Regions from separate parts of the Homo sapiens genome. Here regions 2 and 3 are each linked to region 1. The links come from fine-mapping of genetic effects on gene expression. A gene starts in region 1. Each other region holds a variant in brackets. All regions are shown on one strand. Distances are from middle to middle.

Region 1 (8,011 bases):
AGAAGATTAACGTTCCAGCTGATAGAGTCAGGCAGACAGCAAGCGAATCCTTTCTTTATCCCGTTTTTTGTTCTATTGAGGCCCTCAAAGGATTAAGTGATGCCACCCACATTGAGGAAGTACATCTCCTTTACTCAGTTTATTGATTCAAATGCTAATCTCCTCTGGAAACATCCTCAAAGACACACCCAGAAATAATGTTTAGCTAGATGGCTGAAGATCCTGTGATCCAGAGTTGATACATAAAATCGACTATCACACATACCATTTTCATATAGATGTCAACTCTCCTTCAGTTGATCACAGATCCAATGCAATTCCAATAAAAATCCCAACAATCTTTAGATTGTGAAGTTCAGTGAAAAGATGATGAAATATGGCTTTAGCAGTACAATCCTGAAGACAAGCGTAATCAAACAATGACTACCAAAAAGGAGAAGGAGTCCAAGTGAACCAGTTCAATTCATTGAACTTTACAATCTAATTCTAAAAACTATGTGCAAGAGAAAAGGGACAGTAATAGCCAAGACTTCCCTGAAAAAGATCATGGTGTCTGCGTGGTGATATGGATGTGGGAGGGCAGGGTATTTGCCCCGAAAATATAAAGACATTATAAAAAATATAGTAATTGAGACAGCGTAATATTGACACAGGAGAGACAAATAGACCAGTAGGACAGAATAGAGAGTGCAAAGGTACATCCATGCAAAAAGAAAAAAAAAAAACAACCTGATCTATGATGATGGTGGCATGGTAGATCTGTGTAGAAAGGATGGGCTATTGATAAACCACCTTAGAGCAACTGGTTATCCCTAGAACTCACTATAAGCAAAAGTCAGCTTTATATGGATTAATTATTTTAAAATGAAATGTGCACAAGTTTGTCTGCAAAATCTCGTTTCCACTCCTAATGAGAAAATCGAGATGGGACAAGAAATGGTGGAGTAACAAATAAAGCTCACTTACTCTCTACCCCTTATAGGTTATATTAGGTTTCTCTTGCTACCATAACAAATTAACACAAATTTAGTGGCTTAAAACAACATACATTCATTATCTCACAGCTCTGTAGGACAGAAATCCCTGCTCCTTTGCTGTCAGCTGAGGGTTATTCCCAGGTACTAGAGGCTGCCCATATTCTTTGGCTTGTGGCCCCTTCCTACATCTTCAAAGCCAGCAATGGAGGGTTGAGCCCCTCTCATGTCTATTTCTCCTGCCTTCCCTTCTGCCAAATCTCTAACTCTTCTGCTACCTTCTTCCATTTTTATCCCCCTATCTCAAGGTTCCTAATATTAATCACATATGCAAAGCCCCTTCTGCTATGTAATGCACCATATTCACAGGTTCTGAGAATTAGGACATGAATATCTTTTGGGGAGAGATTATTATTCTGCCTTCCACACAGGGAAACCCAGGTTGCTTCACATTTGCACTACCACTGTGTGGCTTGAACATCCTTACACAGTGCCTCAGCCCAGCAGGCAAGGAGGAAGCAGAGACTAGGTAGAAAATATCCACTATCTTCTTCTCATGTCCTTTCTGCTTACCTGTACTTAGTAATTGGGTTTTCTGTACCAGGATTCAGGAGGCTGAAGCAGACAGGGGAGAGGAAGGATTTTGAATTGATTTCCTAAAACCTAACACTGATCCAGTAATTGGAACAAATGCCTTCCTCTGCCTAATTTTGGAAAGTTTAGGGAAGAGATACAAAGGGAAGAAGAGAAAAGAGGAAAGTGGGAGCAATAATGTAAAGCCATTAGAAGAAAAACAGCATGTTTCCCCCTTTCATAAGAACTCAATACAAGAAGGTTCCATATTTGGGGTAGGGGTAAAAGAGAGGAAATGTCTAGCTCATTTGAGTCATTTATTAGATGTCATTATGTACCACACACAATGCTACGTGATTCCACAAACCTTTCATAATTCTTTAAACTAACCCATATAGTACATGTGTGTAGTTATTACCTTTAAATGAGGAAACTCAGGCTCACAATGGTGGTCACATACCTAAGGGAACAAATATCAGAGGTAGATATAAACTAAACCTATATATGCTGGCTGCCCCAGTCCAAGAAAATTTCCTCTCTCTCACTGCATTAGTCCATTCTCATGCTGCTGCCAATCAAGACATACCCGAGACTGGATAATTTATAAAATAAAAAGGTTTAATTAACTTACAGTTTAGCATGGCTGGGGAGGCCTCAGGAAACTTACAATCATAGCGGAAGGGGAAGCAAACACATCCTTTTGCACATGGCAGCAGGAAGGTGAAGTGCCAAGCAAAGATCTGGTGAGATCTCCTGAGAACTCACTCACCATCACGAAAATAGCATGAAGGTAACCAACCCTATGATTCAATTACCTCCCACCAGCTCCCTCCCACAACACCTGGGGAGTATGGGAACTACAATTCAAAATGAGATTTGGGTGAGGACACAGCCAAAACATGTCACTGACTTTCCCTAGCAAGAAGGCAAGACTAAGGCATGTTATAATCCCCACACTGTGCCTTTCGCTGTCTTTAAAGGACAATCTTCGTGTTACTGCCTTCCTTCTGCAAACTTCCTTTTGCCCCAGATGTTACAGTGACTTCCTAATGAAGTCTGGAGTTACTTACCTTCTTGTAATAATTATACATTTACTAATTCTGTACAGTCATTTTCTCCAGATTGATTTGGTTATTATTCATGCTAGTCCTTGTGTGATGACCACTGGGCTGTGAGCCTGAATTTTCTTTTTTTTTTAAACCACTTTATTGAGGTATGATTGAGATACAAAAAGCTGTATTTAATGTATATAACTTGATGTGTTCGGAGATAAGCTCCTTTTCTTCTCTTTCCTTCTTTCTTTTATAGAAGTAGGCTTCAAAGAAACAACGAAAGGTGCTAAAACTGGTCTCTGGATGAATCTCTGCTAGGACTTAGAGAAACATGGAGACCTAGTTGTTATCATACAACTTGTCTTGCTGCCACTTGTCCTGTCCCTTCAAGGAGTTATGGTTATCAGGAAAAAAGCCAATTAACAAACTCTGCTTAATTTTTGTGGTGATAATTAATCAACTCTAAGATTTCAGCATAAAATCCCAACACCTTGCCCTGTGTGACAAGACCCTAAGTGCCTTGCTCCTGCCTGGCTCTCCAGCTGCATCTTGTCACTCTACACTCCTTACTCGACTCCAGCCACACTGGCCAAGGCCTGCTGTCTCCAGATCTTGCATAACCGCCTTCACACATCTGCTCGGAGTTCACTTCCAGTCTTCCTATTCCTAGCCCCATGAGCTACTGAACACTTGAAATGTGTCTAGTCTGAACGGAAATGTGCTGGAAGTATAAAATATACACCGGATTTTTATGACTTAGTAGATATAAAAGAAATATCTTATTAATAATCTCATATTGATTGCCTGTTGAAATATTTAAAATATGTTGGGTTATTATTAAAATTAATTTGATCTGTTTCTTTTTACTTTTTTTTTTTTTTTTTTGAGACGGAGTTTCGCCCTTTTGTCCAGGCTGGAGTCAAGTGGCATGATCTCGGCTCACCGCAACCTCCACCCCCACCCCGCCCGGGTTCAAGCCATTTCTCCTGCCTCAGCCTCCCAAGTAGCTGGGATTATAGACGCCCGCCACCAAGCCCAAGTAATTTTTGTATTTTTAGTAGAGACGGGGTTTTGCCATGTTGGCCAGGCTGGTCTTGAACTCCTGACTTCAGGTGATCACCTGCCTCAGCCTGCCAAAGTGCTGGGATTACAGGCATGAGCCACCGCGCCCGGCGTTCTTTTCACATTTTATGTGGCAATTGGAAAATTTAAAATTACACTCATGGCTCACACTGTTTCCATCGGACAGCGCTACCCTATGGCATGACCCTCTTTTGCTGCCCTCCTGGCACTTACATTGTAGAATTTCAGCATCCGGGCTCACTTGGTCAGTGGCCTACTCACCCAAGCAGAATGTACCACAGAAACCTTGCCTGGCTCACCCACACCTGATTCCCAGGCACTCAGGCCAGGGCCTGGAGCATAGTAAGTGCTGACTAAATATCTTTCGAATGAATGACTCTACTCTTCCTCAGCTGGACTCATGAATTCTGTCGGGTCCCAAAATACGTGGTCTAAAGTCCTTTGGGCTCCTGCCGCTGCCAGCACTGATCATATGCTCTTGACCCTGGTCGGGTGGGGGGATGTCTGGATACCTCCTCTGTGGAAAGAACTGGCCACACATCCGCAGAGGTGACTCGGGCTGAGAACCCAGGCTCCTCCTCCCTTTGGTGACACGCCCCTCGGTCCCTCACTGGCACTTCTCCCTCCGGCCACACGGCGGCGTCTCGCCATAGCGCAGCGGCCGATGGTACAGCCCGCTCCCCCCTCGCGCTCTCGGACAGTGGGTCCTTCCACTTGTAGAAAAGCATTGTGGGACGGAAGCCTGTCCTTTCTTCCTTTTGGTGCGAGCTTGCTGTGGTTTTTGCTCTGGGTCCTCTGGGATGGCGCCTGGCTGTGGCCGCGTGGTCTCTCACGCAGGGGCGCCGGGCGGGGGAACGCGGCCACCCTGAGTCTGGTGAGTCGACTGCGGCGGCCTGTGTCCGAAGTGTCCGGGGCCGTGAACAAGGGCAGCGGCCTGGCCTCAGGCCTGCGTTCCCACGTTTGGAAACGGGGAGCTTCGTCGATTTGTGTTTACATCATCGACTATGCCAGGGAGTTCTCCAGATAAGCCTGGTTTTATTTTCGTCAGTGAAAAGGCCTTACCGTATAACTGACTTTATGCTTGCCCTGCCCCCGTATAAAATAACTTAAAAGCAGCGTGCCTGGTTACAGCTGTTTCCACGTGCGGTGCTCGTCGGGAGTGATCACCTACCCTACAGGTGAGTTTTCACGTTCGTGCAAGACCAGTCGCCATTTAAAACGCATCGCATTTCACTTTTCATTATTAAGTCGGATTTTAAATCGTGAGAAAATTTCTCTGAAATGTATTGTCCGTTTTTAGGCTGTAATCGGCATTACTGTCAGCCAGTCAGCAACCTTATGCCATAAAGCCTACCTCACGCAGTGTCAGCCTTTGTGTTGCCCATTCACTTTGGAAACTAGTGAATGTGGTGTCAAAAAAGGCGTAAATTAAACGCTTTGCAGCCTTTTCCTGCCCTTAAATTTGATACCTTTGGTGTAGGAGCTGCATAAGTAACAGTTGCTGCTTTTACGTTTCCACGCGTGATCTTGACCCTGCTAGCCTTAAGTGTATGGTTTCTCTTAGCCAGTTCTAATTTTTGTTCAGGTGGAAGATGGATGCCTGAAGTGTAGACTGCTGCTAGCTGAATACCATCTGGGAGCATAAAGGTGACCTGAAGGTAGGGTGATATGTCTTAAAGCACTTTGTAATGGGAATTTTTATCACCTTTTAAATTGGGGTTCCTTCTCTAGTGAGTTTTAATGTCAGTGGTACATTCGTAGTGTTGCTCTGTCTGTAGCTATTAAGGTGAGTTAATAAATGGGATAGCCTCCACAGCTTATTTTTGGGAAGGTTTTGCTGATACTTCCTGAGAAGCCCAGGGAAATAAATACGCATAGTACTGGCATTCTGCATCTCTTTAAGATTTGTTTTTATGTGTAGTAATTGAGTTTTTTAAAAGCTTGTGAAATCGCAGGCATATTACCAAGTTCTTGATTAAAATGTAATACAAAAATATTTGCTGTCGAATTGAGTACTTTATTTTTTCTCTTAGGATGTCCTTGGTGAGGATTTTGAAAATTTGATCTTCACAAGAGTTGCCTGGATCATTTGAAATTTCTGGGAGTCTGAGGAGTACTGACATAATTACCTGCTGGAGTCTGTAAATACACATTTAAGACAGTGAGGATGTGAATAAATATATTAATGCACTTTGGCATTTGTGTTTTAAGTGATTAACTGCCAGAAACAGCTATTTCTAAAAAGTTATAAGGGAGGAGGGGTTCTTTTTTGATCAGTATTCACTGCTGTCACCATAATTAATAGCCTTAAAATAGCTTGTGTTTGGCCCAAAGAGAAATGTACTTTCTTCCAGTGACTCAAAAATCGTGGCTAGAACTAGACTGATTTCTAGTGACAGGTGTGCTTTACTGCACTCAATGCGTATTTTTCCTCCAACTAAATTGTACATTTAATGTTGCCATATCTTCTGCCTTTGCTTTGCAGGAAACGACAAATAATGTATAGAGGTATTCAAAAAATTTATTGAAAGCACTGTACTAGGAGCTGAGAACACGATGATGAGCACAACACAGTTCTTCCCTTTGGAAACATAGATAAGTGGAGGGAATGTCATCACAAATGTAAAACTTCACTATGAGATGAGTTCCGTGATAGGATTTTCTTAGGGAAACCTGAGAAAGAGTTGAGACTAAAGGTATGTGTCATATTTTTCACAAGGCAAAACTGGGGGAATGACATATACAGAGGCTTGGGCTAGAAAAAAGATACCGTTAGTCCACTTACTTTTGAGACAGTTTTGGCTGCTTTCCCTCTTCAGTGCCCTGTTTTAGAACTGAGTCCTTACTGAGGCTTGTAAGATGGCTATTATGGGAGGTGAGAGTGTTACAAAATGAGGCTGAAGAGGTAGGTAAAGAAGCCAGACCACTTCAGGCTCCCTCTGGCTTTATTAAAGCAAGATAAATCCATGGTGGAAAATCAGATTTGCAAGAAAAGGTAGTTGAACTAGGTTGCTTATTGTTGTCTAGACAAGAGACCAGCTTGGACTAGTAAAATTAGTGAAATAAGATCGTTTATAGTTGGATGACAGAGCCAACTAGACGTGGTAATAGTGGAGGTGTCCATAACTGCTAGGTGTCCAGCTTGCACACTGATGAGCATAATGACCCTAGATTCAGCTGGGGAGCAGCATTTAAACAGCTGAATTTTTAAATTACCTTTGAGAAACCCAAATGGTCTTTTTGCAGTAGCACATTACTCAGTAGTCTAAACTACAGAAATAAACCTTAAGGCCATGGGTATAAATGAGATCTGCTGGTGGTAGAGGAAGAGGGCCTAGGGTCTGAAGTTTGAGAAACTCCACTAATTAATGGCAAGGTAAAGCATGATAAGCCAGAAAGGATGGTCAGTGGTAGGAGCAAAATAGGATTATATTAAAGAAGCAAAAGAATGTCCTAAAAATTCTCCCTGGGATTAAGTAACACAGTGATTGATATTAGTGGAGTAGAGGGAAAGATCCATGTTAGAGATAGCTTAAGATAGGGATTAGATGAATTGAGGGCAATGACTAAAGATACTGCTTGCAAGAAAACTGGCTGAGAATGAGAGGAAAATCTTAGTTGCTTGGCGGGAGGGGGTTTGTGGTTGTGAAAGATAGTTTTGTTTAATCTTAGTCTTAAATTTAAAACCAAGTAGCAAGGATCTAGCTGAGAGAATAATTGAATACATTAATATAGGAGGACAGACAAAGATCCTGAAAAGGCTGGGAGAAGAGCATCCAAAGCACAGGTGGAGAGACAAAAAGGTTAGGGCTGCTGGCAGCTGTGGAGAGAACTGTACGTGGTAAGGGGGAGATATAAGATGTCCTGCATAAGTATTTTCCCTGTAGATTGCAAAGTCATCTATGGAGAGGAAAGGTACAAAATAGTCACTGGGGAGAGCAGGTGAATTAGATGGCCAAGCAGGGTGGATGGATCATTTGAGGTTTGGGGTGACAGATCAACTGAGATCCACTTACACTTCTGAAAACGCAAGAACACTTTAGAAATTAACAACACTTAAAGCTTTTTACATCATTTGTAAATAACTGGTGGAACTTAACACCACAAAATAAAGTATTATAAAGAACTTTATATGAATAAAAATATATGCAGTCTGAAAGTGATGCCTCAGTCCTTTTGCATCTGGGCACTAGTTGAGAACCAGCCCAGCCCTGGGAAGACGTCCTCCCACTTGTACTATTGCACAGCAGGCTAGCTGCAGTTCAGAATTCCAGAATGTTCATCAGATGCATCTGGTCTTGGTTGTGGTGGACACAGACACAAGATAGA
Region 2 (8,011 bases), 45 kb after region 1:
GAGAAGAATGTGCTTTAGTCCTTTTTATGTCAACATGCAGCAATGGCTCATTGCCTCAAAACACACGTCCCCAAAAGAGACCTGTAAGTGCATCAGGCAAAAGGCTCTATGGATGCTCAGGCAAAAAGATCCTCTTCCCAGCAAATTTAAATAGCCTTCCCCTGGAATACGCCAATGAAAGGATCCTGTATCCACTCTCCACAATTACTTCTCTGTGTTTCACAGGAAGCCAGCGGAAAATGAACCTCAGTGTAGAAGTCAAGTCTGGATTTGGGAGTGTATATGCTGCAAACTATTTCAAGCAATTATTTTGTATGAAAATATGCAAATTTAGCCATATTTTAGCAAAATGTAATTAAGCTCATTTTCAAATGTATTAAAATGACTATCTGCTCAACATGTGTAATTATTTTATATAGGGAGTGCTGACAAATTGCACTAATTAATTAAGGGTAGAAAACTATAAAACTCTATCTACGAATAATATATGCTAAATTCTAATCATCCCTGCCACCTATGTCGCCTCAACACACAATACACACAAATGCACTTTAAAGTATTTCCCAGTGGTGTTGCTTTGGTTTTAAGTATTGTCCAAATTGAACCAACTCTTGGTGTTCCCAAGGAGAATGCTGAGTAAGGGCTGAAGTACAGTTTATTTAAATGAGGGCTATCACTATCTCCACCTTTTTCAGATGTACAGGCTGGGATTCCAATCCCATGTGTGCCACAGAGGACAAGCTACCATCATCTCCCTGAGCCTCAGTTTTCTCATCTGTAAAACTGAGATGGTGATGGTGGGCTGAATATTTTTCATTGGTACTCAGCCTCTACTGACTCATCTATAATCTACTCTCTACTGCAGAGATAGAAAGCCTGGAAATTTTATATTCCTGGACACTTTGCCAGCTGGGTTCTAGTTAAGAGAGACTCCAGTTAGATCTGAAGGCAGAGAACAGGAAAAGTTATTTTCCTTCTAGTTGTACCTGTGGCATCAACTCTTGCACTCCTGAGAAGTGGGGGTTCTTTGTTCGGCTACAGTGGTGGTATCTCCAGCAGTGTCAGCAAGAGTGGTCCCTGTCTAGCATCCATCACGGTGCCTGCAGCATTGTCAGCAGCAAGCACAGGCTCAGGATTGCCTGCTCAAAGGTGGAAGCGGCTTCTGGTCTCCAGGTAACACCCACTTCTCTCTTTGCATTCCTTCAGTCCAGAGGCAGTAAAAGCAGCTAGATCTCTTGAGTTACACCACTCTCTGCTTTTTGCACCTTCAATCCTACTTATACCTTTGCACCAATTCCCTACTTAATCCCCCTCTGCTAGAATCACATCATGCCTGAATACAAATGCCATTTCCCAAAGGGTTATTATTGGGATTACATGAGATAATATAGAGCAAGCACTTTGCTCAGTACTTGGAATATGGCAATACCAAACAAATGCCTACTATTACCCTATTATTCTGTCTAATCATTGTTGGACCTGATCTAGCACCCTCATGTCAGTCCTACTACATGAAGGTAATATAGACCCTTCTCTTCTTAACCATCAAAGGATTTCAGTGAAGTTGAACTTGGTTTCAGAAAGCTGGGGGCAAAGCTCTGGGAAACTAGCAGAAGCAAAAGGGATCAAGCAGGAAAAGGCCAGCAAGTGTGTATTAACTAGGGCATAGGTGAAAGAAGGGCTTGGCTTCCAAACCTGCAGTGTGCACAAAAAGAGTCTTGATGGTTACCTGACATCATGAACTGAAACTTCTTGTAAGTATAAAAGTCATTTAGGCTGGGTGCAGTGACTCATGCCTGTAATCCCAGCAATTTGGGAGACTGAGGTGGGAGGACTGCTTGAGGCTAGGAATTCAAGACCAGCCTGGGCAACATAACAAGTGAGACCCCATCTCTACTTTAATTTATACATTTTTATTTTTTTAAAAAAGGAAAAAGAGGCCGGGCGCGGTGACTCATGCCTGTAATCCCAGCATTTTGGGAGGCTGAGGCAGAGGGATCACGAGGTCAGGAGTTCGAGACCAACGTGGAGAAACCCTATCCCTACTAAAAATAAAAAAATTAGCCGGGCCTGATGGCGCATGCCTGTAATCCCAGCTACTCAGGGGGCTGAGGCAGGAGAATCGCTCGAACCCAGGGGGCAGAGTTTGCAGTGAGCCAAGATCATGCCACTACACTCCAGCCTGGGCATCAGAGCGAGACTCCATCTCAAAAACAAAAACAAAAACCACAAAAACCAAAAAAAGGAAAAAGTCATTTATACAATGCCAATTATGTAGGTACTCAAAATAAAACACAGTCCCTGCCATGTAGGAGTGAAAAGAATTTCACTGATGAGTCATTTCTACATCTTCCTCTCTTGTACCTGTCACACTGCCCAGCCTGCTTTGCAGAGAGGTCCAAAACTTCCAGCTAAGAACTTTTTAAATTAAGCATACACACACAAATATTATCCCTTCAAACACTCTACCCGTATAGGTAAAATGTAACAGGATTCATTTTTTTCTGTGCTTTAAAAGGCGTTTTTCAGCTAAAAAGGCTTATCTTTAAGTGTAGTTTTGTCTTCTCAGGTAGAAACACTTAATATGTTTTATATATTAACATATACTATCTCGTCTGGGCGCAGTGGCTTACACCTGTAATCCCAGCACTTTGGGAGGCCGAGGCGGGTGGATCACCTGAGGTTGGGAGTTCGAGACCAGCCTGACCAACATGGAAAAACCCCTACTAAAAATACAAAAAAATCAGCCGGGCGTGGCAGCACATGCCTGTAATCTCAGCTACTGGGGAGGCTGAGGCAGGAGAATCGCCTGAACCCAGGAGGCGGAGGTTGCAGTGAGCTGAGATCGTGCCACTGCACTCCAGCCTAGGCAACAAGAGTGAAACTCCGTCTCAAAAAAAAAAAGATATACTGTCTCTACTTTGTAATATACTATATATAATACATATTTTTATTATATATTATATACTATTTTTAGACACATTATTCATAAATAGAATACAGAAAGCAAGTTCCTGCCAATATTTTATGAAATTATTCTCTAAAACTCTGGCTGTTTACGATAAATACTTCAGGATTCCTAACTTATTTTATGTCAAAAAGAGTAAGCT[G/T]CTTGTTATCTTGGAGAGAAACAGTAATGTCGGTATAAGAATCACCTATTATAAAGTCAGGCCTGGGACAAAATGCTTCTGTTGAAAGCTGCTAACAGAGAGATTGTGTTCCGCTTACCTCCTCCTCACAGGCTGTACAGAATCATTGTCACTTCCACAGGAGGGGTTTCGGCGACGCGTGTAAGGGAACTTTGGCGACTTAGTGCGATCACTGGGAGAATTGTAGAGTCCACTGGAGAGAAAGAAAAATGGTCAAAAAGAGCCCAGAGAGTTCCTGGGGGAAAACACACCGCAGCCCAGACCTATTCATAACTGCACAGCTGGTACTTCCAGAGGCACATGCACCAGGGGCACGTGGTTCTCTTTGCTGACAAGATTTATTAAAAGAAAAGAGGTAAGATCTGGCAAATCAAATCATAAAGGTCATTATTTTGCAGGAATGCCATTTGTCTCACTAGCCTTCAGTAGTAAAAAATGAACACACACAAATAACAATAACAATTCATACATATGATGAATTTAGCCCTTTCTAAACACTGACTCAGCTAAAGACTTTACATTCATTATCTCAGCTAATCTTCATATCAGCCTTCAGCACTGAGATACAACTATTAAACCTATTAAACAGAAAAAAAATTGAAATATAGACTACTTAATTAAGTGGCCCAAATAAAGTAGCTAGGAAGTGGCAGGGCTAGAATTTGAACTATAAGTTACAACACAGGTCTGTCACTGGTTTGGTAGTTGTGACCAGAGATACACTAGACATATCCATATTTTTAGGAATAAAGGTCTTCCAGCATAACTATTCATCAGCTATAGTTTTTGACTTAAGTTTTTAACCAAAACTATGAAATGGGGAAAATTATTAATATGCCATTTAGAGTTTTCAGAAATATATTACCTTACAGGCAATTTCATAATATTTCCTAGGTTTCCCTTTTGCCTTTCCAGGAAAAAGTTTCATGTTATAAAACATACTGTTGATTTCCACTTCAGAAATCCCAGCCCCTCTCCCCTGGGTCACATTGATTTAGAGTCTGCCCACTTTATCCACAGCTAGCTGTGATCAGCCACCCAGCAGCTGGATTCCTTTATTCAATGAGCTGCATGTACTAACCCCTTTTCTACTGTCTCCTTTATAAAAACAATGATTCCCTTTACCTCTGGGGGCCATTTTCTTCCCACGGTGCATGAGATTTGCTTCTTTGGGTATCAGGGCTATTTTCATTCTTTGCTTTCTTAAAGCTTTAATTTTAAAAAAAAGTATGAGAAATAAATTAAGTAGAAAATAAAAGTAAACTCACATACTTATTTGTTAAGTAAAACTTTTTAACAAATGTTAAGATGTGCACACTTATTTGCTTGTTTATACCTGTGACTCTAAAAAGAACATGAAGTCGCTGCCCATAAAATCTGTCTCCAGCAAGTACCTTTGGGTCTTTCCCCCCTCTTTCTTTCTAGTTTTACTGCTTTAGTCAACAGATGCCAGGTCCATCAATTGTTAAGAAACTCTAGAGTCCACCTGCAGGAGAGGCAGCAAGGGGAACCACAGAGCCAAGAAAATAAGAAAGCCAAGGAGGAAGGACCTGGGCTACCCAGGATCTTCAGCCTGGCTCCCTTTTTACAACAGTGATCAGAGAAGCCCTTACTCCAGGCACGGGTCTGAATCCACACAGGTCGGTCAGCCCCGGGCAGGTTCAGGCTATTCAAACTGACCTTTTCCTGGCTTCCGCCTTATCTTGGCTTCATCCCTCCAGATGAGAATGACTTTCAAATGCTATTTCCTGACCTAGTATCATCTTTCAGTCCTAAGAATGTAAATGTAACTGAGTTGTTCTACCCTCAACAAATTGTTTTAGAAACCCCTGGGGAGACATGGAGGAAGGGACTAATCAGAAGCCTCCAGGCACCAGTGGGGAGGGGTGTGTCACCTCTCACATCCTCAGGAGTCTTAGCTTAAGATAAAGATAGAGCTATTTAACTCCAAATCCACTTTTAACCCTGGCTTTTTGAGGAATCCTCTGTATAACTGTCCTAGGATAGGGTCATAGAGGAGTACTTTGTAACAGCCAACAAAGAGGAGAGAGGAAAGATGACGAGGTATTAAAAAAAAAAAAAGACTTGCACCCTAGTATACTATCCATGATGGAATTAAAGTAAGCCTATAAAATTTTGTATCTGACAGAGGCATATAACCCATAGTATTAGTAGATGGCAGCTTAGTTTATTATTTTTATAAAGGCTAAAAACCTCTACAGATTCAATTCCCAAAGTAAAAGCTTACCTTTTGAAATGATGAAAATTAACAAATATGGCAGATATTTAATACGATAGTAGAAAGTGTATGGGATCAATAAATCAGAAAAAGCAAAGAGAAGGGAGAAGGGAGACTGGAAAAGAAATAGGGAGATAAAAGAGGAACTGAGAGAGTATACAAAAGTTAAAGAATAATAAAATCCTGGGTGACAAGTTAATTGCATTCACACCCTAAGGTATTTCTCATCTGAAGCTTGAGAGGAAAACTTTGGTGGTGCTTCAAGTACCAGTATCATCACAGGAATGTGGTTGCAAAGGGGATTGAAAAATATTGTTAAAATGGCCATACAGCCCAAAGCAATATACAGATGCAATGCTATTCCTATCAAACTACCAACATCATTTTTTCACAGGAAAGAACTATTCTAAAATGGACCCTCCCTCCAAAAAAGCCCAAACAGCCAAAGCAATTCTAAGCAGAAAGAACAAAGCTGGAGGCATCACACTACCTGACTTCAAACTGTACTACAAGGCTACAGTAACAAAAACAGCATGGTATGGTACAAAAACTGACAAAAAGACCAATGCAATAGGATAGAGAACCCAGAAACAAAGTCATACACCTACAACCATCTGATCTTCAACAAAAGCAACTAGAACAAGCAATGGGGAAAGGACTCCCTAAATGGTGCTGGGATGGCCAGTCATATGCAGAAGAGTGAAACTGGACCTCTTCCTTTTACTATATTCAAAAATCCACTCAAGATAGATTAAGAACTTAAATGTAAGACCTCAAACTATGAAAATACATCTTAGAAGAAAACCTAGGAAATATCATTCTGGACATCAGCCTTGGTGAAGAATTTATAACTAAGTCCCCAAAAGCAATTGCAACAAAACCAAAAATTGACAAGTGAGACTTTAAAGAGCTTCTGCACAACAAAAGAAACTATCAACAGAGTAAACAGACAATCTACAGAAAAGGAGAAAATATTCACAAACTATGTATCTGACAAAGGTCTAATATCCAGAATCTATAAGGAACTTCAACAATTCAACAAGATGAAACAAACAATGCCATTAAAAAATGGGCAAAGGACATCAACAGGCACTTTTCCAAAGAAGACATACATGCAACCAACAAATACATGAAAAAATGCTCAACATCATTAATCATTCGAAAAAAGCAAATTAAAATCACAATAAGACACCATCTCCCCAGTCAGAATACCTATTATTAAAAAGACAAAAAATAAAGATGTTGGCAAGATTGTGGAAAAAAGGGAACACTTTTACACTGTTGGGGGAAATATAAATTAGCTCAGCCATTGTGGAAAGCAGTTTGGAGATTTCTCAAAGAACTTAAAACAGAACCACCATTTGATCCAACAATTCCACTACTGGATATATACTCAAAGGGAAACAAATCATTCTACAAAAAAAGACATATGGCTGGGCGCAATGGCTCACACCTGTAATCCCAGCACTTTGGGATGCCAAGGCAGGCGGATCCCGAGGTCAAGAGATGCAGACCATCCTGGCCAACCTGGTAAAACCCCATCTCTACCAAACCTACAAAAATTAGCTGGGAGTGGTGGCACACGCCTGTAGTCCCAGCTACTTGGGAGGCTGAGGCAGGAGAATCGCTTGAACCCAGGATGCGGAGGTTGCAGTGAGTCAAGATGGTGCCACTCCACTCCATCCTGGCAACAGAGGGAGACTCCATCTCAAAAAAAAAAAAAAAAAAAGACACATACACTTACATGCTCATTGCAGCACTATTCACAATAGCAAGGACATAGAATCAGCCTAGATGACCATGAACAGTGGACTGGATAAAGCAAATATGGAACATATACACCATGGAATACTACACAGCCATAAAAAAGAATGAAACCATGTCCTTTGCGGCAACACGGACGCAACTGGAGGCTATTATCCTAAGTTAATTAACACAGAAACAGAAAACTAGATACTGCATGTTCTCACTTATAAGTGGGAACTAAACATTGAGTACACATGGACATAAAGATGGGAACAATAGACACTGGGGACCACTAGAGGAGGAGAGGGGGCAAGGGTTGAAAACTACCTATCACGTACTGTGCTCACTACCTGAGTGATGGGATCATGCATACACCAAACCTCAGTGATAAACAATTTACCCATGTGACAAACCTACTGGCACACGTACCCCTGGACCTAAAATAAAAGTTGAAAAAATAAATTTTTAAAAGGAGGATTGTACTCCTTCTGCACATTCTAAAAAAGCGTGGGATCTGAATCTCATGGAAGATTCCTGTTCTTATGCTGAACATACCACAAGCATACCCTGTACATACAGATGAAGCTGAATCTCTATCCACAGCTTGAGGGTGACTAAGGGAAATACAGTAAACTAAAGTTATGCAATGATAAAGAACTTGTCATCCTAAAAGGAGAACCAGTAAATGTCTTAGAACCAAACAAAACATAGGCAAATCCCTGCGTAAAATATTAAAACTCTGAGAATCTTCAGATCTTAAAGTTATCTTGCTGAGAAATTATGAACTATACTCCTCAAAGTAGCCACAATACAGCTGAATGAAGCCACTATTATTTACCAAAAAAATATCAAGTAGATGATCTAAGAAGTCTTTGCA
Region 3 (8,011 bases), 54 kb after region 1:
CCAATGCATAACGGTCACTAACCACCGAGAATGTCATGAAGATGAGTTTGTAACATTAATAAGCACTAATATTTATTGAGTACTTACTATGTGTCAGGTACTATTACAAGCGCTTCACATCTATTTACTCATGTATCCTCAAAATAATCCTATGAAGTAGATATCAATGTTATCTCATTTTAAAAGATTTAAAAAAAATGGGCCTTTCTCAAGGTCCCACAGCTCCTGAGTGGTGGGGCAAGCTTTGAAGATGGGCAGTCTGGCTCCACAGACTTAGCTCTGAACCACACACTACTTCCACCTGTGGCCCCACAAGCAGCTCAAGAGTCAGTCTAGATTAGGAGTCAACTGGGAGAGACAGACTCTTAAAAGGGCAAGTGGGCCAGGCGCAGTGGCTCACGCCTGTCATCCCAGCACTTTGGGAAGCCGAGGCGGGCGGATCACGAGGTCAGGAGTTCAAGACCACTCTGGCCAACAAGGCAAAACCCCATCTCTACTAAAAATATAAAAATTAGCTGGGCATGGTGGCGCATGCCTGTAATCCCAGATACTCAGGAGGCTGAGGCAGGAGAATTGCTTGAACTGGGACCCGGGAGGTGGAGGTTGTAGTGAGCTGAGATTGCGCCACTACACTCCAGCCCTGGCTACAGAGCGAGACTCCGTCTCAAAAAAAAAAAAAAAACCCACACAGCAAGTGAAAGTGATGTTCAATGAGAAGAACACTTCAGAGCAAGGCAAGAGGACAAGACAAGAGAAACACCTGAGCACCCTCAAAGTTGGCAAGTTTCCTCCAGAGCAGTTGGGAAGTATGTCTGGCTTACCCATCAGGAAAGATAAACATTAATAAATACACTTTAGACAGAGAAAACAAAGGGTGGTTTCAGATAAGAGTTCCAAAAACTGTTACTCTAAGGCATTTGACATGGGATTCCATATCTGAATTGTGTTCCTATTTTGGAATCTTGAAATGAAAAGGTGAGCCTGAAGACACCTGTGGCACAAAAGGTAAGCTCATGCTGGAGCCACTACCAATAACTGAGCAACATCCAGAAGCCAGGAATAAGAAAAGACTAATGTTAGGGTAAATTCTGCCTGGTGTGATAAATGGAACACAACCAATTAATTCCCTGGAACTACTCCACGTGCCATCAAACGTCAGCAGTGGCCAGTCACCATCTTAGTCAATTTTGCCATAACCATGTGACCATTAACAAAATCACAAGGGCAGATTCTCAAAATTGCAGGCAAAGATTTGGGATGAAGCTGCTTCTCACAGGTAGAACTCCATGTGGTACACGTCTGGGGCAGTGGCAGAAGGGACTAATTCATTTAGGTCCTAGACAGTAGGTGTGCCCTACCATTAGTTGTTTTTGTTTTTTTTTTTCTCCTGAGACAGAGTCTTGCTTTGTCGCCCATGCTGGAGTGCAGTGACATGATCTCAGCTCACTGCAACCTCTGCCTCCTCGGTTCAAGCAATTCTCCTGCCTCAGACTCCCAAGTAGCTGGGATTACAGGCGCATGACACTGAGTCCAGCTAATTTTTTTATAATTTTAGTAGAGACAGGGTTTCACCATCTTGGCCAGGCTGGTCTGGAACTCCTGACCTCAAGTGATCCACCCACCTTGGCCTCCCAAAGTGCTGGGATTACAGGTGTGAGCCACTGTGCCCAGCCCCCTAACATTAGTATTTTTAATTGTTCTTAATAACCTTTATTTAAATGTGGTGGTATTCTTAGCAGATATTACTAATATTTAATATAAATGAAAAGGAGCTTCATGTCCTAGGGCTGTTTTCCTAGGCTGGGAGAGGGGGCCACAGCAGAGAGACCAATACCCAGTGTCAATAACACCAACTGAAAAAAGCTGAGTAAAGGTGAACATCCTGTTAACCAAGGCCCTGAGTAACTAGCTTAAGAAAAGACCTAGGTTTGCTCCCACCCTCATTCTCTTTAGACTGACTACTTTTTTCTTAGTCTAACAATCAATTACTTTAGGAAAAGTGCCTAATCACCTTCACCTGTTTCCCTTCCATCCAAAAATTAACAGAGAAAAACAGAATATTTTTAAAAAGAAAAATTGCAAACTATGTTTATATATTTGCTTAAAGAAAGCAATATTTGGTTTTTCACAATGTCTGAATCATAATTTTTAAGATGAAGCATTATTTGGATGGTTTTCCAAAAGAATTTCAGGAAAAAAAAATCATGTGAGTGCTCTTTGTCACAAACACTCACAACCAGCATAGCCAAACTTTTTCAAAATAAATTGTTCTACTGTCAGGACTAATTTACTAATGTGACAGTGCTATAACTCTCATATACCCACTGTAGACGAGATAAGGTATAATCAGTAATATGACTTAATTCATGGTTCCTTTATATTCAAAATGGTAATCTACTGTTCACTGTTAACATGTACAGTTTTTTTTTTTGTTTTTTTTTTTTTAAGATAGACTCTTGCTCTGTCACCCAGGCTGGAGTGCAGTGGCACGATCTCAGCTCACTGCAACCTCTGCCTCCTGGGTTCAAGTGATTCCCTTACCTCAGCCTCATGAGTAGCTGGGATTACAGGCATGCACCACCACGCCCGGCTAATTTTTGTATTTTTAGTAGAGATGGGGTTTCACCATGTTGGACAGGCTGGTCTCAAACTCCTGGCCTCAGGTTATCTGCCCGCATCACCTCAGCCTCCCAAGGTGCTGGGATAACAGGCATGAGCCACCAAACCCAGCCAACATGTACAGTCTTTTTATATGAACTAAATATCTCTTCATCTGTACTCCCCTACTCTATAACAAATGTGAACTAGACAAGCCTGGGTTTTAAAAGCCTTATTAGGAAGACTACATGGGGAAAAACCACTTAGAAGCATTAACTTACTGGGAGCACTTCTGAAGTATCCATTCATATAATAGTCACATGCCTTCATTAGGCAATATGTTTTAGTTTTATGTCACTAAATATGTAATCTAAAAGCAGTAAATATACTTTCAGAATAATATATTTTAACCACTGTCCAAATTAGTAAGATTTTACCATACCACCATTTGAGATAGCTAATCAATTCAGTAAAGCTAGGTTATATGTTGGTGATTGAAATCTGCAGAGGTGAGAAATTTAGGTTATGCATTATTTAGGTTTACTGACTTTCCATTTTGTTAACATGGACCACTAAATTTTCCTTTTCCTCCCCTCATCATACCACCTTCCAGAATCCCTCCTACATCAGCTCAGACTCGGGCTACAGAGAAAAGTGACCTGACAAATCCATCCCACTAATGGGCTTATGTCTTCATGTATTATGTACCACAGAACAGTTCCATTTTGAAGATGAGTAAAAGGAAAGACCAAATATTAACTAAAATAATTAACCAATAACAAGGGAATTTCAGGCACTGTTCCAGAAAATATTTGGAGGTTAGATAAATCTTTCCCCACCACCACTGCTTTTTCATTTAAATATCAGACATAAGAAAAGGGTATAACATACATATATAAACAGCTTAACAAATAATCATACAGTAAACCACCACCCACTTCAAGAATTAAAACACAGAGGGCAGCCGGGCGCGGCGGCTCACGCCTGTAATCCCAGCACTTTGGGAGGCCGAGGCGGGCGGATCATGAGGTCAGGAGATCGAGACCATCCTGGCTAAAGCAGTGAAACCCCATCTCTACTAAAAATACAAAAAAAATTTAGCCAGGTGTGGTGGTGGGCACCTGTAGTCCCAGCTACTCGGGAGGCTGAGGCAGAAGAATGACGTGAACTCAGGAGGCGGAGCTTGCAGTGAGTGGAGATCGCGCCACTGCACTCCAGCCCAGGCGACAGAGCAAGACTCCATCTCAAAAGGCAAAAACAAAAGAAAAAAAACACAGAGGGCAATTTTCCTGCACTTCACAATCATCTCATTTGGGGCAATTCTTTACTTTCTAGATAAAGTTAAACAGTTGCTTTCTGCCTAAAATATCTGGAAACACAGATTATTCTGTGTTTCATTTCATAAAATATTTGACATATAAAACAAAATTATTTTTAAATTAAAAACTTCATAAGGCCTCAAAATCTTAATAAAATGAAGGACACATCATTGTGCACCCACATGGCTGCCAGAACAGTGCACCACCCATGGTAGGTACTCAATGAATGTCTATTATTAGAAAGGATGTATTTCTGTTTCTACCATTTTTGCCACTAGAGAGGAAAATTCAGGATAATGATCTTTATTTAATAAGTGTCAAAAGTAAAACAAAAACTATTAATAGATGTGGTGGTACCTGAGACGCATGTCAAAAGGACATGCGGCAATATACCTTGCAGGACTGGGCTGCTTCTTAGAATTTTAAAAGGCAGTCTTCTGCAGTAGCACACTGCTGTTTCAATTCACAGCCACAGGTGATCTGCAATCAAGATCAGTTATTGACATATGGCTATTAAGGCTTTGAAGTAAATCTGTATTTTACTTCAAGTAAAAATAATAATAACTCTAGTGAGGCCACTTAGAATTAATCAAGAGTGTCCAATTCATTTTACATATTGTTCACATTAAAAAGACAAAGCTTGCTCGGGCGC[G/A]GTGGCTCACGCCTGTAATCCCAGCACTTTGGGAGGCCAAGGCGGGCGGATCATGAGGTCAGGAGATCGAGACCATTCTGGTTAACAATGGTGAAACCCCGTCTCTACTAAAAATACAAAAAATTAGCCAGGCGTGCTGGCAGGTGCCTGTGGTCCCAGCTACTCGGGAGGGTGAGGCAGGAGAATGGCGTGATCCCGGAAGGTGGAGCTTGCAGTGAGCAGAGATCGCGCCACTGCATTCCAGCCTGGGCGACAGAGTGAGACTCCATCTCAAAAAAAAAAAAAAACAAAAAAAACAAAAAAAAAACAGACAAAGCTTAATTCCAAAAGGCTGCTCGTATTTTGAAGAGTATGTCAGTCGGGGAGTGCTATCATTTATTAATGAGCCAAATCTAGCTCATGGCCTGTGATATTTGTTTCTGGGCTGTTAGACACCACAGCTTAATATGTGCACACACAATTCCCTGTGGTTTATACAGTACTGAAATGCCAGTGTGCAAAGCTCCAGGGTTTCATTTGTTCGTTTTTAATACACTATATCCAAATACTTCCATCCTGGTGCATCAGACCACTACCAGTCCTTTGAGTGGTTAGATTCTGTTCACATTTGAGTACCTCCATCTTAAGTGATCCTTGCCTTCAGTTCAGGAAGTGTGACTGTCAGAAACAGAATGAACTTTCCCAGGATCTATTTAGCTACTTTATCTGGGGGCAATTCTTAAAAGTCATCCCTGTGATGTCAAGATTTGGTGATGAATATACACGTATTTTCAATTACAAAAATACTTTGCAATTAAATAGGATTACGAGTCTCACAAAATTCATAAGTCAATTTGACACCTGTCAACATAAATCAAATCTTTGATGTTACTTAAATGTTGCCATTCCTTTTAATTTTTAGAGTGAGGGTGAAGGCTGAATGTGTGAAATTAAAATGAAAAAAATGTATTTGGAAAGCGAGAATACCTTATTCTGATATGTGGGGAAAATAACATACAGCTAAACAAGTAAAACAAGGTTGTGACATACACTTTCTTTTAAAAATTCTCAAATATAAATTTATAAACCTTCAGGTTAAATCTTGTCCTACTTAACAATCACATTTTCTTCCCTTAACATAAAAAAAAACTGTATAAAATGCTTAAGACAAATAATAAGATTATAGCTATTCTCAACACAGTAAGTTATTAGGTTTCAGTTAACACAATCTGATTTGCATGACCTAACCCAGTTCAACTTATCAAAAGACATGATATTTGTGAATTAAGAACTGACCAATAATTGAAAATATATTTTAGCTCTATTTCTCACATTGACAGCTCAAAGTGACTTTGCCTTAATTTCACCAACTTTAGACTAGGTACTATGGAAAAAATGGCAGTATAGCAAATTAGCAAAATAAAACATTCTTTTTCTATACCACAAATTACGGCCAAATAGCTAAATATTCAAGAAAACCTTATATAATTTTCCTATCATCATGGAATTTTTTTTTTTTTGAGACAGAGTCTCGCTCAGCCACCCACTCACTGCAACCACAGTCTCCCAGGTTCAAGCGATTCTACCATCTCAGCCTCCCGAGTAGCTGGGATTACAGGCACCCACCATCATGCCCAGCTAATTTTTGTATTTTAGTAGAGATGGGGTTTCACCATGTTGCCCAGGCTGGTCTTGAACTCCTGACCTCAGGTGATCCACCTGCCTCAGCCTCCCAAAATGCTAGAATTACAGGCGTGAGCCACCGCATCCAGCTGGAAAATTTTATATTTGGCAAAACAGATGCTCATTAAATTCTATAAAGCAAAAATAAATATTAAAACATAATTTGGAAAATAAAGATGTTTCTGCATCCAATGGCTAATTGTTTAAGTTCAAACACCTGGCTCATCCCCAAAAGGCAGCCAGATTCCTGCTTAAGAATTCCTGGGCTGAATACAGTAGCTCACTCCTGTAATCCCAGCACTTTGGGAAGACAATGCAGGAGGGTCGCTTGAGGCTAGGAGTTTGAGATCAGCCTGGGCAACATAGTGAGACCTATCTCTACAAAAAAAGTTTTTTTAATTAGCCAGGCATGGTGGCCCATGCTTGTCATCCCAGTTATTGAGACTGAGGCAGGAGGATTGTTTGAACTTGAGAGTTTGAGGTTACAATAAGCCATGATCACACCACTGCACTCCAGCCTGGTGACAGAGTGAGACTCCATTTCTTAAAACACAAAAAATGTTTCTGCCTTCTAAAGTTCCAAGAGTGATATTTAAGCAGTTGCCTTTTTACTAGATATACATAGACTTTTTAGACACCAATTTTGCTACTGCAAGATCAAAGAAGGCATTCTACTGAAAAGCTGGAGGGTAGATTATAAGGAATGGGTGTGGAGGAGAAAGATGCTAGGAAAACATGTCTATGCATGAAAGGCCCCCTCCTGAGTTGTTCTGCTTCCAATTTCCTCTTCCCAGACCCAGTACTCTCCTGGATCCCTCTGCTTTCGTCATTACCAAAATGATAATTTGGGACTGTGAGTGCACATAAAGGCACTTCCTCCTCTGCCCTTCCCCCAGTGCTACAGAGTGTGTGGAGGAGCTACAGGGTGTGGAGGTACTCACAGACAGTCCTCCTTGTGGGTCAGAATGCCAGGTTCAAAAACAAGAAAGGGATTTGTGAGGCTAGGAAGGCATCTGCTCATTCCCTTAGAACTTCAAAGGAGTAGGATGAGAGACTTCTATCTGAAGATTTGTAATCTACACCAGCGTGGAAAGACTGCCAGATGTGGTAACAGGAGAGGGTGCACATTGTTCCTTCAAGCCCTCTTGGACCCAAAGATAACACCTATCTATGAATGGTCAGCTGGAATCAAGAGGTGTCACGAGTCACTTGGATATCAAGTTTTTCTTCCTGTGATACGAGTTTGAGGGAAGAGAGTTGAGTGATCACTCACATCCTTCCCAGTGGTACTCCTGGTGCCCTCTCCTCCAATCCTCTATCAGGGCTACACAGCCGACTGACACACACCAAACATTCTCCAGCCATCTCTCAAGCCCCACAATTTATGCTTGCTTGGTCTAGGGCAGGTGGATAGTTCCATACCTAACCTAAAGCTGGTTCTGTCTCAGAGGAGAGTGCTAGAACACTACTTTTGAGGTTTTTATTTGATGCAATTTTAATAGTAAATAAAGTAAATGCAAATATAAACTAAGCATACCTGTATATCAAGATTGTTTTTAAAATGCTTATTTAGCTAAGGCAAAATTGGGAAGTTTTTTGTCTGCTTCCACGTTTGAGCTCATCTCAAGGACTCTGTAGTGTTTTATTTTACGCAAGCACTCACTAAAAGAATTTTGAAAAACAATGTACCTTGTGCTTGTTTCAAAATGATACCTAAAATTTTTCATGAAAAGTTTAAATAGTACCAAAGGATATAATTTGAAGTATAAATATGACATTA

Which allele goes with the higher level. Positions count from the first base shown, and alleles are read on the strand shown. Sizes are in standard deviations (SD) of each study's normalised expression. Not every link is listed here.
For the expression in tibial nerve of the gene that starts at base 4,091 in region 1, allele G in region 3 goes with a higher level than allele A (moderate effect, 0.56 SD a copy in GTEx).

The links. PIP is the estimated chance that this variant, and not a neighbour inherited with it, causes the effect.
Region 2: its variant is fine-mapped to the expression of EPB41L4A-AS1 in whole blood (TOPMed, PIP 0.94).
Region 3: its variant is fine-mapped to the expression of EPB41L4A-AS1 in tibial nerve (GTEx, PIP 0.98).

The regions. Positions count from the first base shown.
Region 1 is chr5:112,156,436-112,164,446 of GRCh38, forward strand. It overlaps EPB41L4A-AS1 (EPB41L4A antisense RNA 1), which reads left to right and starts at 4,091. Exons shown (of 3, transcript NR_015370.2): 1 at 4,091-4,860; 2 at 5,268-5,340; 3 at 5,716-6,066. It overlaps EPB41L4A (erythrocyte membrane protein band 4.1 like 4A), which reads right to left. Exons shown (of 23, transcript NM_022140.5): 23 at 6,184-8,011. It overlaps SNORA13 (small nucleolar RNA, H/ACA box 13), which reads left to right and starts at 5,050; the gene lies at 5,050-5,182. RefSeq lists enhancers at 3,958-5,157, 3,976-4,185, 4,058-4,790, 4,566-4,665, 4,686-4,735 and 1 more.
Region 2 is chr5:112,201,147-112,209,157 of GRCh38, forward strand. It overlaps EPB41L4A (erythrocyte membrane protein band 4.1 like 4A), which reads right to left. Exons shown (of 23, transcript NM_022140.5): 14 at 4,275-4,358; 15 at 3,229-3,342. LOC124901044 (a long non-coding RNA gene) reads left to right here. Exons shown (of 3, transcript XR_007058902.1): 3 at 226-397. Among named protein-coding and RNA genes, the nearest start is that of SNORA13, 44 kb to the left of the region's middle. The variant G/T (reference allele first, on the strand shown) is at 3,111.
Region 3 is chr5:112,210,922-112,218,932 of GRCh38, forward strand. All of the region lies in intron 12 of EPB41L4A (erythrocyte membrane protein band 4.1 like 4A), which reads right to left. Among named protein-coding and RNA genes, the nearest start is that of SNORA13, 53 kb to the left of the region's middle. RefSeq lists an enhancer at 6,675-7,176. The variant G/A (reference allele first, on the strand shown) is at 4,570.